4 linked regions of the Homo sapiens genome follow. The protein of the gene in region 3 interacts with the protein of the main gene of each other region in a biochemical or structural test. Each region holds a gene or a part of one and is shown on either strand. Other genes may lie near its edges.

What was found. The genes of interacting proteins can lie anywhere in the genome.
Region 1: of the proteins of CDC25C (region 3) and BRSK2, one has a biochemical effect on the other in vitro, tested with the Homo sapiens proteins (one study listed by BioGRID).
Region 2: the proteins of CDC25C (region 3) and MAPK1 form a complex in vitro, tested with the Homo sapiens proteins (one study listed by BioGRID).
Region 4: of the proteins of CDC25C (region 3) and CDS1, one has a biochemical effect on the other in vitro, tested with the Homo sapiens proteins (one study listed by BioGRID).

Annotation. Positions count from the first base shown.
Region 1 is NC_000011.10:1,396,434-1,399,933, forward strand, and holds part of BRSK2 (serine/threonine-protein kinase BRSK2), read left to right. Parts: intron 1-3,500. UniProt on the Homo sapiens protein: Serine/threonine-protein kinase that plays a key role in polarization of neurons and axonogenesis, cell cycle progress and insulin secretion. Phosphorylates CDK16, CDC25C, MAPT/TAU, PAK1 and WEE1.
Region 2 is NC_000022.11:21,759,646-21,763,145, reverse strand, and holds the end of MAPK1 (mitogen-activated protein kinase 1), read left to right. Parts: 3' UTR 1-3,489; downstream 3,490-3,500. UniProt on the Homo sapiens protein: Serine/threonine kinase which acts as an essential component of the MAP kinase signal transduction pathway. MAPK1/ERK2 and MAPK3/ERK1 are the 2 MAPKs which play an important role in the MAPK/ERK cascade.
Region 3 is NC_000005.10:138,318,305-138,321,804, forward strand, and holds part of CDC25C (M-phase inducer phosphatase 3), read right to left. Parts: intron 1,071-3,500; coding exon 915-1,070; intron 1-914. UniProt on the Homo sapiens protein: Functions as a dosage-dependent inducer in mitotic control. Tyrosine protein phosphatase required for progression of the cell cycle. When phosphorylated, highly effective in activating G2 cells into prophase.
Region 4 is NC_000004.12:84,645,627-84,649,126, forward strand, and holds part of CDS1 (phosphatidate cytidylyltransferase 1), read left to right. Parts: intron 1-2,930; coding exon 2,931-3,060; 3' UTR 3,061-3,500. UniProt on the Homo sapiens protein: Catalyzes the conversion of phosphatidic acid (PA) to CDP-diacylglycerol (CDP-DAG), an essential intermediate in the synthesis of phosphatidylglycerol, cardiolipin and phosphatidylinositol.

The sequences.
Region 1 (3,500 bases), on a different chromosome or scaffold from region 3:
CCCGGGCCCTCTCATCATGGCCTCACCCTGCTCCGGCGCTCTGGGTGCTTTGAAGCAGACAGGAGACCCCCTCCAGGCTGGCCCGAGGGCAGGTCAGACCCCAGTCCCTGGGAACAGCCTGAGTGGGCTGTGCCTCCCCGTCGGCCACTGGCGCTCAGGAGGAGCCGTCGGGAAGGCCCCTTTGCCATCACCTGGTGGCGCTTGCTTGAGGGCTTCTGTGCCTTCCAGTCCTCACTGGGCACAGACTAGCTTCTTTGGGCACCTGGGGAGGGTCAGGCTGTCTCTGAAGTCAGCAGCCCTGCTGGGCAGCCGGCACCAGGAGAGGAGGCGGGCTGGTCCCCGTGACTGCCGGCCGCCGGCATCCACCTATGTGGGGCTGTGCCTAGATGGTGGCACTGTGGGGCATCACTGTGCAGTTCTGGGCCCTGCCCTCAGCTCTGGACAGCCCACCTGGACCCTGGCCCCTCGGAAGTGGAAGGACTGGGACCTCAGGGCCCCTGAGTGTAGAATGGGGTTTCCCTGAAGCTTGTGCGAGGTTCCAATGGCTGGAAACACCGTACCGCGCAGGAGGACGGCAGACCAGCATCTGTCAGGCCCCTTGGGGCTCACATGGCTGGTCCTCTGTGCTGCCCTGTGCTCTGCAGGAAGTTAACGGCACCCTGCCACCTCCTCTGTGCAGGGCAGCCCCGCTTTCACCTGTAGGGCTGGTGCCTGTGTCAGGCCCAAGCCCCAGGTCCTAGCCTAGGCTGACCAAGCGGCCTGCAGATCTCCCTGAGGCCTCACCCCAGGGATGTCCGCCGGGCCAGGCTGCCCTGAGCCAGCTGCCTGGGGCTCTGGACAAGATGGAGGCTGGGCTGGGGCAGAGGCTGCAGGGACAAAGCACGGATTGTGCCAAGCCGGCTGCCTTTCAGGGCCCGGCCTGCCAGGTCCAGGCCTTGTTCTACCGCCTCTGAGGGGCCAGTGTTCTGGGCCCAGCAGCTGGGAGCCAGGCCCCACCCACAGAGCAGTGCTCCCGAAAGTCCTGCTGTTAAAGAGAAACTCCTCGTTTTCCTGGACGCCTCCAGCTTCCCAGGCTCGTTCTGCCTTCAGTCCCGGGGCCCACGGAGGCCGTGGCTGCCCTACGCTGCTTTGCCCCAGGGGCCTGGGCTGCAGGCTGGGCCTGGCTTCCTCCCCGAACCCTGGAGAGTGACAGCACCACCCCCAGTGGATGGCAAGGTCCCATCGGTTGGCATGTGTCTCTCTGGGCACCATGCTCCTCGTTGGGTGCCACGTCCTTGGGCTGAGCTTGGGTCCTGTCTGCCCTGGGGGTACCATCCTATGAGGACAGAGCTGCCTTTCCTGGGTGGCCATGGCAGCCTCATGGCACTGGCTGAGGGGAATGGACACTTCTGGGATGGAGCTGGGCTGGGGTGGGGCTGGGTAGGGCCAGTGGGAGTTCTGGGCACCTTGGCCTGAGGGGGATGGGGGTGCCCAGGGCATTCACGCCATCACTGCCCACTTGGCTTAAGCTGGAGCCCAGGGCCCTGGAGGGCAGGCTGGCCTTCCCGGCCCCGGGCAGAGGTGGGAGGGCGCCTGGACGGCTGCCTGCATGATCCCCGTGATACAGCGGGGATGGCTGCAAGTCGGGCTGAGTCCAGCTGTGGGTGGTTTGCGGGGGCACAGGGAGCCTGCCTGGCCAGGAATGTCGCCTCTGCGGGTGTCTTGGCCTGGGAGCCCCCGGGGAACCCTTTGTATGGGAGAAGGGGTCAGGATAGGGGCTGGGGGGCAGTGCCTAGTGGCCCTCCATGCTGAGGGAAAGCCCCTCTTCACAGCTAGCATCGGGCCTCGTGTCCTCGGCACCCTGAATCAGCTGCAGGGCTAGCTGCTGCCTGAGCTGCCTGGTTGGGGCTGGCCTGGGCCCCTGATTGGCTGCTTCCCTGGGCGGGGGTGACGTTGCTGCCCTGGGTCCGAGAGTTATCTTGTGCGGACAGAGGTAATAGGTGTGGTACCCGCCCCGGGAAGGGTGGTGGCCAGGGTGGCCATGTCAGGCGCCTTGGCCCTGCCCCCTGGGGATACAGGGGGTGGAGAGGCAGCCCCAAAGCTGGGTTCTCAGAGACCTGGGGTGGCCAGATGGGGGCTCATTCAGCTGCCCCCTGTGCAGCCCCTTGGTGCCATTAACTTTCTGCAGAGCGCAGGGCAGCACAGAGGGCCAGCCAGGCCAGGGGGCCAGAGGTTCCCCTCCCACACAAGCTCCGAGGTGTCCAGACAGGAGGCGGTGGCCCCAGTCCGCATAGGCCTTTCCCCAGGGCAGCCCTTTCCCCAGGGTTAGGCTGCAGGCCCTGCCGGTGTGGCTTCAGGAGTCCTGGTCCCCGCACTCAAGCTTCCCTCCTGCTCATCTGTGATGGGGCCTGGGTGTACCCAGGTCCTTGGTAGGCGCCAGGAGATGTGTGGGGCCCCCTGGAGCCTGGAGCCCCCCCAGCCCCTCCGCTTATCTTTGGTGTCTGGGGCGGAGACTGGCCCTTGGCACCCGCGGCCGTCCCTGGCTTTCGTCCTGCGCCGTCCTGGGTCTTTGGGTCCCTCTGCCAGCCCCGTGGTGACTTCTTGCACACAGGGTTTGCAGGGGGGCTGCGGAATGACTCCGTCCCTTCCACAGCACACGGGCACCTCCAGCCAGGAAGGAGCTGGGCAGGCAGCCCCGCCCCAGGCCAGAGCCACAGAGCCGTTGTGACTGGGGGTCTCTGGCCAGGACGTTCCTGTGCTGTCTGTTGTGGGCAGGCCCCCCAGGGCAGGGCCACCTCCAGGGTACTTGGTTCCAGACGCTGGCTGAGTGGTCACTTGTGTCCACACCGCAGTTTCCCTATCTGTGAAGTGGCTTGGATAGGATGGTGGGGTGGTGCCAGGGGGTTGCTCTTGCTGGGACTGAGCCCAGGGCCTGGCCCTGCCACTGGGGCCAGCGTCAGCCTCAGGACAGCCGAGGAGGGGAGATGGCTTGTGGGCCAGGATGCCCGAGGGTGGGGAGAAGCAGCTCAGATGGCGTCACTGTGTTGCCTTCCCCCAGCCGATGGGATTTTTGTGGAGCTCTCTCTGCTGGGGACAATGAGAGGGGAGCCGTGAGCCGTGATAGGGATTGTGGCAAGGCCGGGCTGGTCAGCTGGGGATGCCAGGGCCGCACAGTCCCTCGGGGCTCAAACTGGCAGCTGTCCCCCCAGGGCTCTGGGCTGGTGAGGAGCTTGTCCTGCCCGTCCCTCTGCTGCCACAGTAACCCCGGACACATCCCATGTCATCTGCTGTGGCCCTGCCTTCTGCCGGGTGGACATGGGGGATTTGGGGTACAGGGAAGCAGTGAGTTCTGGGCCGACCAAATTCCCCGGTGCCGTCGGGCCCAGCCTCCTTCTTCCTTGGCACCCTGGGGTGTGTCGTGGCTGAACCCCAGCTCTGTGGTTCCCGAGGCTTTTCTGGGATGGAGGCCTCGCTCCGGGTCCTGGTGTTTTCACATAGCAGAGGAGAGTGCCCCAAGCCTG
Region 2 (3,500 bases), on a different chromosome or scaffold from region 3:
AGCCTCCAGGAGCTCATGACGTGAAGCACTGTTCTGTCCTCAAGTACTCAAATATTTCTGATACTGCTGAGTCAGACTGTCAGAAAAAGCTAGCACTAACTCGTGTTTGGAGCTCTATCCATATTTTACTGATCTCTTTAAGTATTTGTTCCTGCCACTGTGTACTGTGGAGTTGACTCGGTGTTCTGTCCCAGTGCGGTGCCTCCTCTTGACTTCCCCACTGCTCTCTGTGGTGAGAAATTTGCCTTGTTCAATAATTACTGTACCCTCGCATGACTGTTACAGCTTTCTGTGCAGAGATGACTGTCCAAGTGCCACATGCCTACGATTGAAATGAAAACTCTATTGTTACCTCTGAGTTGTGTTCCACGGAAAATGCTATCCAGCAGATCATTTAGGAAAAATAATTCTATTTTTAGCTTTTCATTTCTCAGCTGTCCTTTTTTCTTGTTTGATTTTTGACAGCAATGGAGAATGGGTTATATAAAGACTGCCTGCTAATATGAACAGAAATGCATTTGTAATTCATGAAAATAAATGTACATCTTCTATCTTCACATTCATGTTAAGATTCAGTGTTGCTTTCCTCTGGATCAGCGTGTCTGAATGGACAGTCAGGTTCAGGTTGTGCTGAACACAGAAATGCTCACAGGCCTCACTTTGCCGCCCAGGCACTGGCCCAGCACTTGGATTTACATAAGATGAGTTAGAAAGGTACTTCTGTAGGGTCCTTTTTACCTCTGCTCGGCAGAGAATCGATGCTGTCATGTTCCTTTATTCACAATCTTAGGTCTCAAATATTCTGTCAAACCCTAACAAAGAAGCCCCGACATCTCAGGTTGGATTCCCTGGTTCTCTCTAAAGAGGGCCTGCCCTTGTGCCCCAGAGGTGCTGCTGGGCACAGCCAAGAGTTGGGAAGGGCCGCCCCACAGTACGCAGTCCTCACCACCCAGCCCAGGGTGCTCACGCTCACCACTCCTGTGGCTGAGGAAGGATAGCTGGCTCATCCTCGGAAAACAGACCCACATCTCTATTCTTGCCCTGAAATACGCGCTTTTCACTTGCGTGCTCAGAGCTGCCGTCTGAAGGTCCACACAGCATTGACGGGACACAGAAATGTGACTGTTACCGGATAACACTGATTAGTCAGTTTTCATTTATAAAAAAGCATTGACAGTTTTATTACTCTTGTTTCTTTTTAAATGGAAAGTTACTATTATAAGGTTAATTTGGAGTCCTCTTCTAAATAGAAAACCATATCCTTGGCTACTAACATCTGGAGACTGTGAGCTCCTTCCCATTCCCCTTCCTGGTACTGTGGAGTCAGATTGGCATGAAACCACTAACTTCATTCTAGAATCATTGTAGCCATAAGTTGTGTGCTTTTTATTAATCATGCCAAACATAATGTAACTGGGCAGAGAATGGTCCTAACCAAGGTACCTATGAAAAGCGCTAGCTATCATGTGTAGTAGATGCATCATTTTGGCTCTTCTTACATTTGTAAAAATGTACAGATTAGGTCATCTTAATTCATATTAGTGACACGGAACAGCACCTCCACTATTTGTATGTTCAAATAAGCTTTCAGACTAATAGCTTTTTTGGTGTCTAAAATGTAAGCAAAAAATTCCTGCTGAAACATTCCAGTCCTTTCATTTAGTATAAAAGAAATACTGAACAAGCCAGTGGGATGGAATTGAAAGAACTAATCATGAGGACTCTGTCCTGACACAGGTCCTCAAAGCTAGCAGAGATACGCAGACATTGTGGCATCTGGGTAGAAGAATACTGTATTGTGTGTGCAGTGCACAGTGTGTGGTGTGTGCACACTCATTCCTTCTGCTCTTGGGCACAGGCAGTGGGTGTAGAGGTAACCAGTAGCTTTGAGAAGCTACATGTAGCTCACCAGTGGTTTTCTCTAAGGAATCACAAAAGTAAACTACCCAACCACATGCCACGTAATATTTCAGCCATTCAGAGGAAACTGTTTTCTCTTTATTTGCTTATATGTTAATATGGTTTTTAAATTGGTAACTTTTATATAGTATGGTAACAGTATGTTAATACACACATACATACGCACACATGCTTTGGGTCCTTCCATAATACTTTTATATTTGTAAATCAATGTTTTGGAGCAATCCCAAGTTTAAGGGAAATATTTTTGTAAATGTAATGGTTTTGAAAATCTGAGCAATCCTTTTGCTTATACATTTTTAAAGCATTTGTGCTTTAAAATTGTTATGCTGGTGTTTGAAACATGATACTCCTGTGGTGCAGATGAGAAGCTATAACAGTGAATATGTGGTTTCTCTTACGTCATCCACCTTGACATGATGGGTCAGAAACAAATGGAAATCCAGAGCAAGTCCTCCAGGGTTGCACCAGGTTTACCTAAAGCTTGTTGCCTTTTCTTGTGCTGTTTATGCGTGTAGAGCACTCAAGAAAGTTCTGAAACTGCTTTGTATCTGCTTTGTACTGTTGGTGCCTTCTTGGTATTGTACCCCAAAATTCTGCATAGATTATTTAGTATAATGGTAAGTTAAAAAATGTTAAAGGAAGATTTTATTAAGAATCTGAATGTTTATTCATTATATTGTTACAATTTAACATTAACATTTATTTGTGGTATTTGTGATTTGGTTAATCTGTATAAAAATTGTAAGTAGAAAGGTTTATATTTCATCTTAATTCTTTTGATGTTGTAAACGTACTTTTTAAAAGATGGATTATTTGAATGTTTATGGCACCTGACTTGTAAAAAAAAAAAACTACAAAAAAATCCTTAGAATCATTAAATTGTGTCCCTGTATTACCAAAATAACACAGCACCGTGCATGTATAGTTTAATTGCAGTTTCATCTGTGAAAACGTGAAATTGTCTAGTCCTTCGTTATGTTCCCCAGATGTCTTCCAGATTTGCTCTGCATGTGGTAACTTGTGTTAGGGCTGTGAGCTGTTCCTCGAGTTGAATGGGGATGTCAGTGCTCCTAGGGTTCTCCAGGTGGTTCTTCAGACCTTCACCTGTGGGGGGGGGGGTAGGCGGTGCCCACGCCCATCTCCTCATCCTCCTGAACTTCTGCAACCCCACTGCTGGGCAGACATCCTGGGCAACCCCTTTTTTCAGAGCAAGAAGTCATAAAGATAGGATTTCTTGGACATTTGGTTCTTATCAATATTGGGCATTATGTAATGACTTATTTACAAAACAAAGATACTGGAAAATGTTTTGGATGTGGTGTTATGGAAAGAGCACAGGCCTTGGACCCATCCAGCTGGGTTCAGAACTACCCCCTGCTTATAACTGCGGCTGGCTGTGGGCCAGTCATTCTGCGTCTCTGCTTTCTTCCTCTGCTTCAGACTGTCAGCTGTAAAGTGGAAGCAATATTACTTGCCTTGTATATGGTAAAGATTATAAAAATACATTTCAACTGTTCAGCATAGTACTTCAAAGCAAGTACTCAGTAAATAGCAAGTCTTTTTAAATGCTGCTTTAT
Region 3 (3,500 bases):
TCCATCTCAAAAATAAATAAATAAATAAAGATAGGTTATCACATCTTGTTGATCTCTGTAGCTCTAGCATTTAGTAGAGTGACTCATACATATCAGGCATAAAATGTTTATTCAAGAATGAATTGTTGGCTGGGCATGGTGGCTCACGCTTGCAATCCCAGCACTTTGGAAGCCTGAGGTGGGTAGATCACCTGAGGCCAGGAGTTTAAGACCAGCCTGGCCAACATGGTGAAACCCTGTCTCTACTAAAAATACTAAAAATTACCCGGGTGTGGTGGTGCACACCTGTAATCCCAGCTACTCGAGAGGCTGAGGCAGGAGAATCGCTTGAACCTGGGAAGAGGAGGTCGCAGTGAGCCAAGATGGCGCCACTGCACTCCAGCCTAGGCGACAGAGCGAGAATCTGTCTTAAAAAAAACAAACAACAAAAAAAAGAAGAATGAATTCTTAATTAAACTAAATTTGGCCTGGGGATGCCTCTGTACTTGAGTCTTTATATACCAAGTTGCAACCTAACTTAGTACTTAAACTAACTGAAAGCCTAATTTAGAAGTATACTTTTGTATCAAAAAGCTGAGTCTCAGGAAAGCACAGCAGCTGAGCTTCAGTCAACCACAAGCAATCAACTGTTTAAACCATGTTCAAATAAGGCAAACTCAAGGCTGCAACCAACTGGGCTGTCTCTGTACCTCACTTCTATTTTCTGTACTTCATTTCCATTTTCTGTCCATAATACTGCCTGACCACATGGCAAACTGGAGTTTTACTGAACATGTTCTGGCTATGAGGGTTGCTGGATTCACTAGTTATTTTTTTGCTCAAATAAACTCTCCTAAGTTTAATTTGTCTAGTTCTTCTTTTAACAGAATGAAGGAATATGAAGAATACAAAGATACTACCACAGAACACTTTACCTTTGCTTCTTGATCTTTCAGGGAAAACTCCATTAATTCATCTGAAATCTCTTCTGCCTGGTCTTCTCCTAGGTTTGGATTTTTATCCAATTTTGGAACAGTAGTAATGGGACTGCCCAAATATTTCATTTCACTGTCCACCAAGTTTCCATTGTCCTGTCAAGTATATTGACAACATTAAAAACTATTCAAAATATATCAAAGTTCTAAATGTAAGAGCTAAAACTATAAAACTCTTAGAAGAAAAGATAAGGGAAAAAATTCATGACACTGGATTTGGATAATGCCACCAAAAGCACAGGTAACGAAAGAAAAAAACAGATAAATTGGTCTTCATCAAAATGGAAAACTTTTGTGCATCAAAGAACACCATTAAGGGAATGAAAAGGCAACCCACAAAATGGGAGAAAACATTTGCAAGTCTTATATTTGATGAGAGATTAATATCAGAATATATAAGGAACTCCTACAACTCAGTAACAACAACAATAACAATCAAAAGGGACATGAATAGACATTTCTCCAAAGAAGATATACAAATGGCCCATAAGCACATCAAAAGATGCTCAACAAAGTAATCATTATGGAAATGCATATGAAAATTGCAAGAGATACTTCTTTATACCCATTAGGATAGCCATTATAAGAAATAACAAGTGTTTGTGCATTGCTGGTGGGAATGTAAAAGGGTGCAGAGGCATTCTATGGATAATAGCATGGCAGTTCCTCAAAAAATTAAATGTAGAATTATCATGTAATCAAGCAATTCTACTTCTGAATATATACCCAAAAGAATTAAAAGCAGGGGCCGGGCGCAGTAGCTCACGCCTGTAATCCCAGTACTTCGGGAGGCCGAGGCCAGCAGATCACGAGGTCAGGAGTTCGAGAGCAGCCTGGCCAACATGTTGAAACCCCATCTCTACTAAAAATACAAAAATTAGCCGGGCATGGTAGCATGTGCCTGTAATCCCAGCTACTTGGGAGGCTGAGGCAGGAGAACTGCTTGAACCAGGGAGGTGGAAGTTGCAGTGAGCTGTGATCGTTCCACTGCACTCCAGCCTGGGTGACAGGGCAAAGACTCCATCTTGGAAAAAAAAAATACACAAAATAAAATAAAAGCAAGGACTCAAGCAGATTTTGTACACCTATGTTCATAACGGCATTACTCACAATGGCCAAAAGGTTGGAAACAACTCAAAATGTCCATCAACAGATGAATGGATAAACAAAATATGATATATACATACAAAAGAAATGAAATTCTAATACATGCTATGACATAGATGAACTTTGAAGACATTACGCTAAATGAAAATATAGGCTGGACGCAGTGGCTCACACCTGTAACCCCAGCACTATGGGAGGCTGAAGCAGATGGATCTCTTGAACCCAGGAGTTTGAGACCAGCCTGGGCAACATGGCAAAACCCTGATTCTACAAAATATACAAAAAAATTAGGTTGAGGTGGGCAGATCACATGAGGCCAGGAGTTTAAGACCAGCCTGGCCAACATGGTGAAACTCCGTCTCTACTAAAAATACAAAAAAATTCACCAGGCATGGTAGCACACGTCTGTAATCCCAGCTACTAGGGAGGTTAAGGCATAAGAATCACCTGAACCTGGGAGATAAAGGTTGCAGTGAGTCAAGATTGCACCACTGCACTCCAGCCTGGGTGACAGAGTGAGACTCTGTCTCAAAAAAAAAAAAAAAAAAAAAAAAAAAAAAGTAGCCAGGCATAGTGGCACACACTTGCAGTCCCACCTACTTGGTAGGCTGAGGTGGGAGAATAATCAGAGCCCGGGAGTTTGAGGCTGCAGTGAGTTATGATTGTGCCACTGTACTCCAGCAGAGGTGACAGAGTGAGACCTCACACACACACATGAAAGGACAAAATATAATATTATTCTACTCATATGAGGTATCTAGAATAGTCAAATTCACTGACACAGAAAATAGAGGTTATCATTGGCTGGGCAGAAACAGGGATGGGGAGTTATCACTTAAGGGTATACAGCTTCTGTTTTGAATAATGAAAAAATTCTGGAAATGAGTTCTGGTGATAGTCTCACATTATTAATATACTTACTGTCACTAGACTGCACACTCACAAATAGTTAAAATTGTAAATATTATGTACATTTTACTGCAATTAAAAAAAATCACATATAAGACTATCCAATAATTGAACATACTCCAGGTCTTCCCTCCATCCTAGAAACCAAAAACCTAAATAAAACATGATCAACTTAGTGGCCAGGCGCGGTGGCTCATGCCTGTAATCCCAGCACTTTGGGAGGCCGAGGCAGGTGGATCACGAGGTCAGGAGATCGAGAGCATCCTGGCCAACATGGTGAAACCCCGTCTCTACTAAAATACAAAAAATTAGCTGGGTGTGGTGGTGCACGCCTATAGTCCCAGCTACTGGGGAGGCTGAGGCAGTGGAATTGCTTGAACCCAGGAGGCAGAGGTTGCAGTGAGCTGAGATCGCACCACTGCACTCCAGCCTGGTGACAGAGCAAGACTCTGTCTCAAAAAAAAAAAAAAAAAAAAAAAAAAAAAAAACCATGATCAACTTTATCTTCAT
Region 4 (3,500 bases), on a different chromosome or scaffold from region 3:
ATGATCATGAATACTAAGAGTTAAAAAGGGAGATAACGAAATGCATCCAGTCTACCAATTATTACTTGAGTGCCTGCCATATTGTAGAATGTTCTAGGGACAAATATGGCAGAGAACAAAACAAACCAAATCTCTGCCCCCATAGCTACTTGTTTGGAAGTTGAAGAAAGAATGATGAGAAAGAGACAATAAACAAATAAATATAGTTTGTTAGATGGTTGTAAGTGTCACACAGAAAAATAAAGCAGGCCGAGGGGATCATGCCTGTGTGTGTAGGGGCTGGCTGGTGGATGGGTGGATGAATATTGCCATTTTAGAAAGGGTGGTTTATTCTTGTTATTAAACCTTAATGTTTTGGATCTGCCTTGAAATACCAGTGTGAGTGTGAAGGCTTAACATCAACTGCATGTTAACTTTATTTTCTGTGGTCTCTACTGGGGGCCCAGAAGGCAGAATGCTTATTAATAGTACCTGAGCTGTAGAAAACATGGATTTCCTTCATAGTACTTGGAAGGAAATTCATATTTAGCAATCCCTAAATACACATTTTAAATATGTACCACAGTAGTGTGAGAATTTTTATATTAACTATTTTTGAGAGACAGTCCTGATAGCGAGTTTATCAATTTCATTAATCTTTTCAAAAATATCAACTCCAGGCTTTGTTAATTTTCTCTACTGTAAATTTTTTACCTCATTGATTTCTCCTCTCATCTTTCATTTCTCTGCCTTTTTTAAATGTTCAATATGCTGTTCTTTTTTTAATTCTGGAGATAAGCTTAGATTATTGATTTTTAGCCTTCTTATCTAATTTATCCATTGAAGACTATTAAGTATCACTTTATCCTCTTCCTGCAAGTTGTGATATTTGTATTTTCATTATTTACATGTTTTCTGATTTCCAGTATTATATCTTCTTTAACACATGGGTTATTTAGAAGCATATTCATTAGTTTTCAAACAAATGGAGATTTTTTCACTTTCCTCCCTTAATTCCACTGTGGTCGGAAAACATACTCTATGATTTGAGTATTTTATAATTTTTGAGATCTATTCTGTGGTACAGCATGTTATCTATTCTAGTACATGCTCCATGGGCAAAGGTGTATTCTGTAGTTTTGGGTTGTAGTTTTGTCTGTGTCAGTTAGGTGAGGTTTAATTAAATCTTCTGTACTGATTTTTGTTTATTTGTTTTTGTGTTTGTTTGGTCCGCTTGTTCTATCAGTTACTAAGAGAGCTTTGTTAAAGTCTCTCATTGTGATTGTAAATGTATTTTTTTATTTGTAGTTCTACCAATTTTTGGTTTATATATTTTGAGGTTGTATTAGGTATGTACAAATTTAGGATTGTCATATCTCTCCATTGAATTGATCCTTTTGTCATTATATAATGTCTGTCTTTACTGCTTGCCTTAAAGCGTACTGTGTTGAATATTAAAATAGCAATATCAGCTTTCTTTTGGTCAGTGTTTGCATGTTATTTCTTTGTCTCTCCTTTTATTTTTAACATTCCCTTTTCCTTATATTTAATGTGTTTCTTTTTTCTAGTAAGCATATAGCTGATTTTTTTCCCTGTTTTATTTATAAGACAGTTGATAATCTTTATCCTTTTAATGGGACTATTTAACTTATTTGCATATTATTTATTGATCTATTTGGGTATTAGTAATTAGTGGTTAAATCCTTAAAACTTTGTTTTCAGAATATGGCAGCTTTTTAGGGCATTAACTCATATGCTTTCTTTAAAAAAAAAATGCTGTCCTCTCAGTAGGGAGGTGTCATGCTGAGCCATGTTGTCCACCATTTGAAAGCAGCTATTTAGACTGTTAGAAGACACTGAGAGTGCCAGGATGCAGCTAGCTGGGAGCACCTGCTGACACAATTTTGCATTTAGCTGAACTTGCTAAAGCAGCCTTCCTTTTCTCTGTTGGTCTCTACTTGGGGTTTATGCTGTGAAGTTGCTGACTCTTTTAAAGAAATGAAATAAGGCGAACAGTGTCCTGACCTGAGTGTGAAAGTTTTTTGGCAGATGAGTTGAGCCACGTGCATGAAGATGACCCTTGGTGGGATGGCTCATCTGGGCTCTTGTGCAATTTGTTAAGTCAAAGATTTTCAGAGTAAATAGTTCCTCTGCTCATCCTCATTGTGGTAACACTAAATAGCAAACATTTCTTTGTTGCTGGGATTTCTACTTTCTATAATTCAATGTGAACAATCTTTACTGTAAGGCATACATTATTTACCCACATAAATGTCTTTCTTAGAATTCTATGCCATCTCTATACATGACTTGTATGTTGCTTTTTCCCATTGGATTTTAAAGCAGATCTGCTTTTATTTTGTTTTTTATATTGGAGTTCACCTAGGACTGTCTTTGAACAAAGTCCACGGCACCTGTATCACTGGTAAGGGGCTTCAGTGCTAGGCTCAGGACTTTTGTGTTCTGACTCTGAATATTCATAACTCCCTGGAGATATTTTTCAACAAAATACCTTTCATCATCTGAAGTTTCTTGGAAGTTAAAAATTTCAATTATATTTTCATGCCCTCTTTTTGGTTTGTCCTATGTTCACCAGGCTCCTTTCCTTACAGAATAGTTTTTGTGTCTCATTCAATCTCAAGATTTGCCATTTATCCCCACCTTTAACTTTGGTTGCCCTTTCAAGAGCTTTTGTAGAACTTAGATCTGCACCCCTTCAATTGACTTACATTGCTCTTGTGTTTTGTGTTTGTGCATTCTTTCTCCCTCTCTGCTGTAACCCTTGACACTAACATTGCACATTAAAGTGAGCTATTATCAAGAGCTATTTTAATTCTGTAAAGATTCCTACTCTACACTTAAAGGAATGGTTTGTTTTAAATTGGAGGTATGTGCTTCACTTATCCCTATTAAAATAACACGAACTTGTCTTCTTTGCCTTTTATCATTAGGGGCCCAAATCCCAGCAAAGTGCTACAGCAGTTGTTGGTGCTTCAACCTGAACAGCAGTTAAATATATATAAAACCCTGAAGACTCATCTCATTGAGAAAGGAATCCTACAACCCACCTTGAAGGTATAACTGGATCCAGAGAGGGAAGGACTGACAAGAAGGAATTATTCAGAAAAACACTGACAGATGTTTTATAAATTGTACAGAAAAATAGTTAAAAATGCAATAGGTTGAAGTTTTGGAGATATGTTTCTCTCTGAAATTACTGTGAATATTTAACAAACACTTACTTGATCTATGTTATGAAATAAGTAGCAAATTGCCAGCAAAATGTCTTGTACCTTTTCTAAAGTGTATTTTCTGATGTGAACTTCCTTCCCCTTACTTGCTAGGTTTCATAATTTAAAAGACTGGTATTTAAAAGAGTCAAACACTATAAAATGAGTAAGTTGACGATGTTTTAAGATTGCACCTGGCAGTGTGCCTTTTTGCACAAATATTTACTTTTGCACTTGGAGCTGCTTTTAATTTTAGCAAAATGTTTTATGCAAGGCACAATAGGAAGTCAG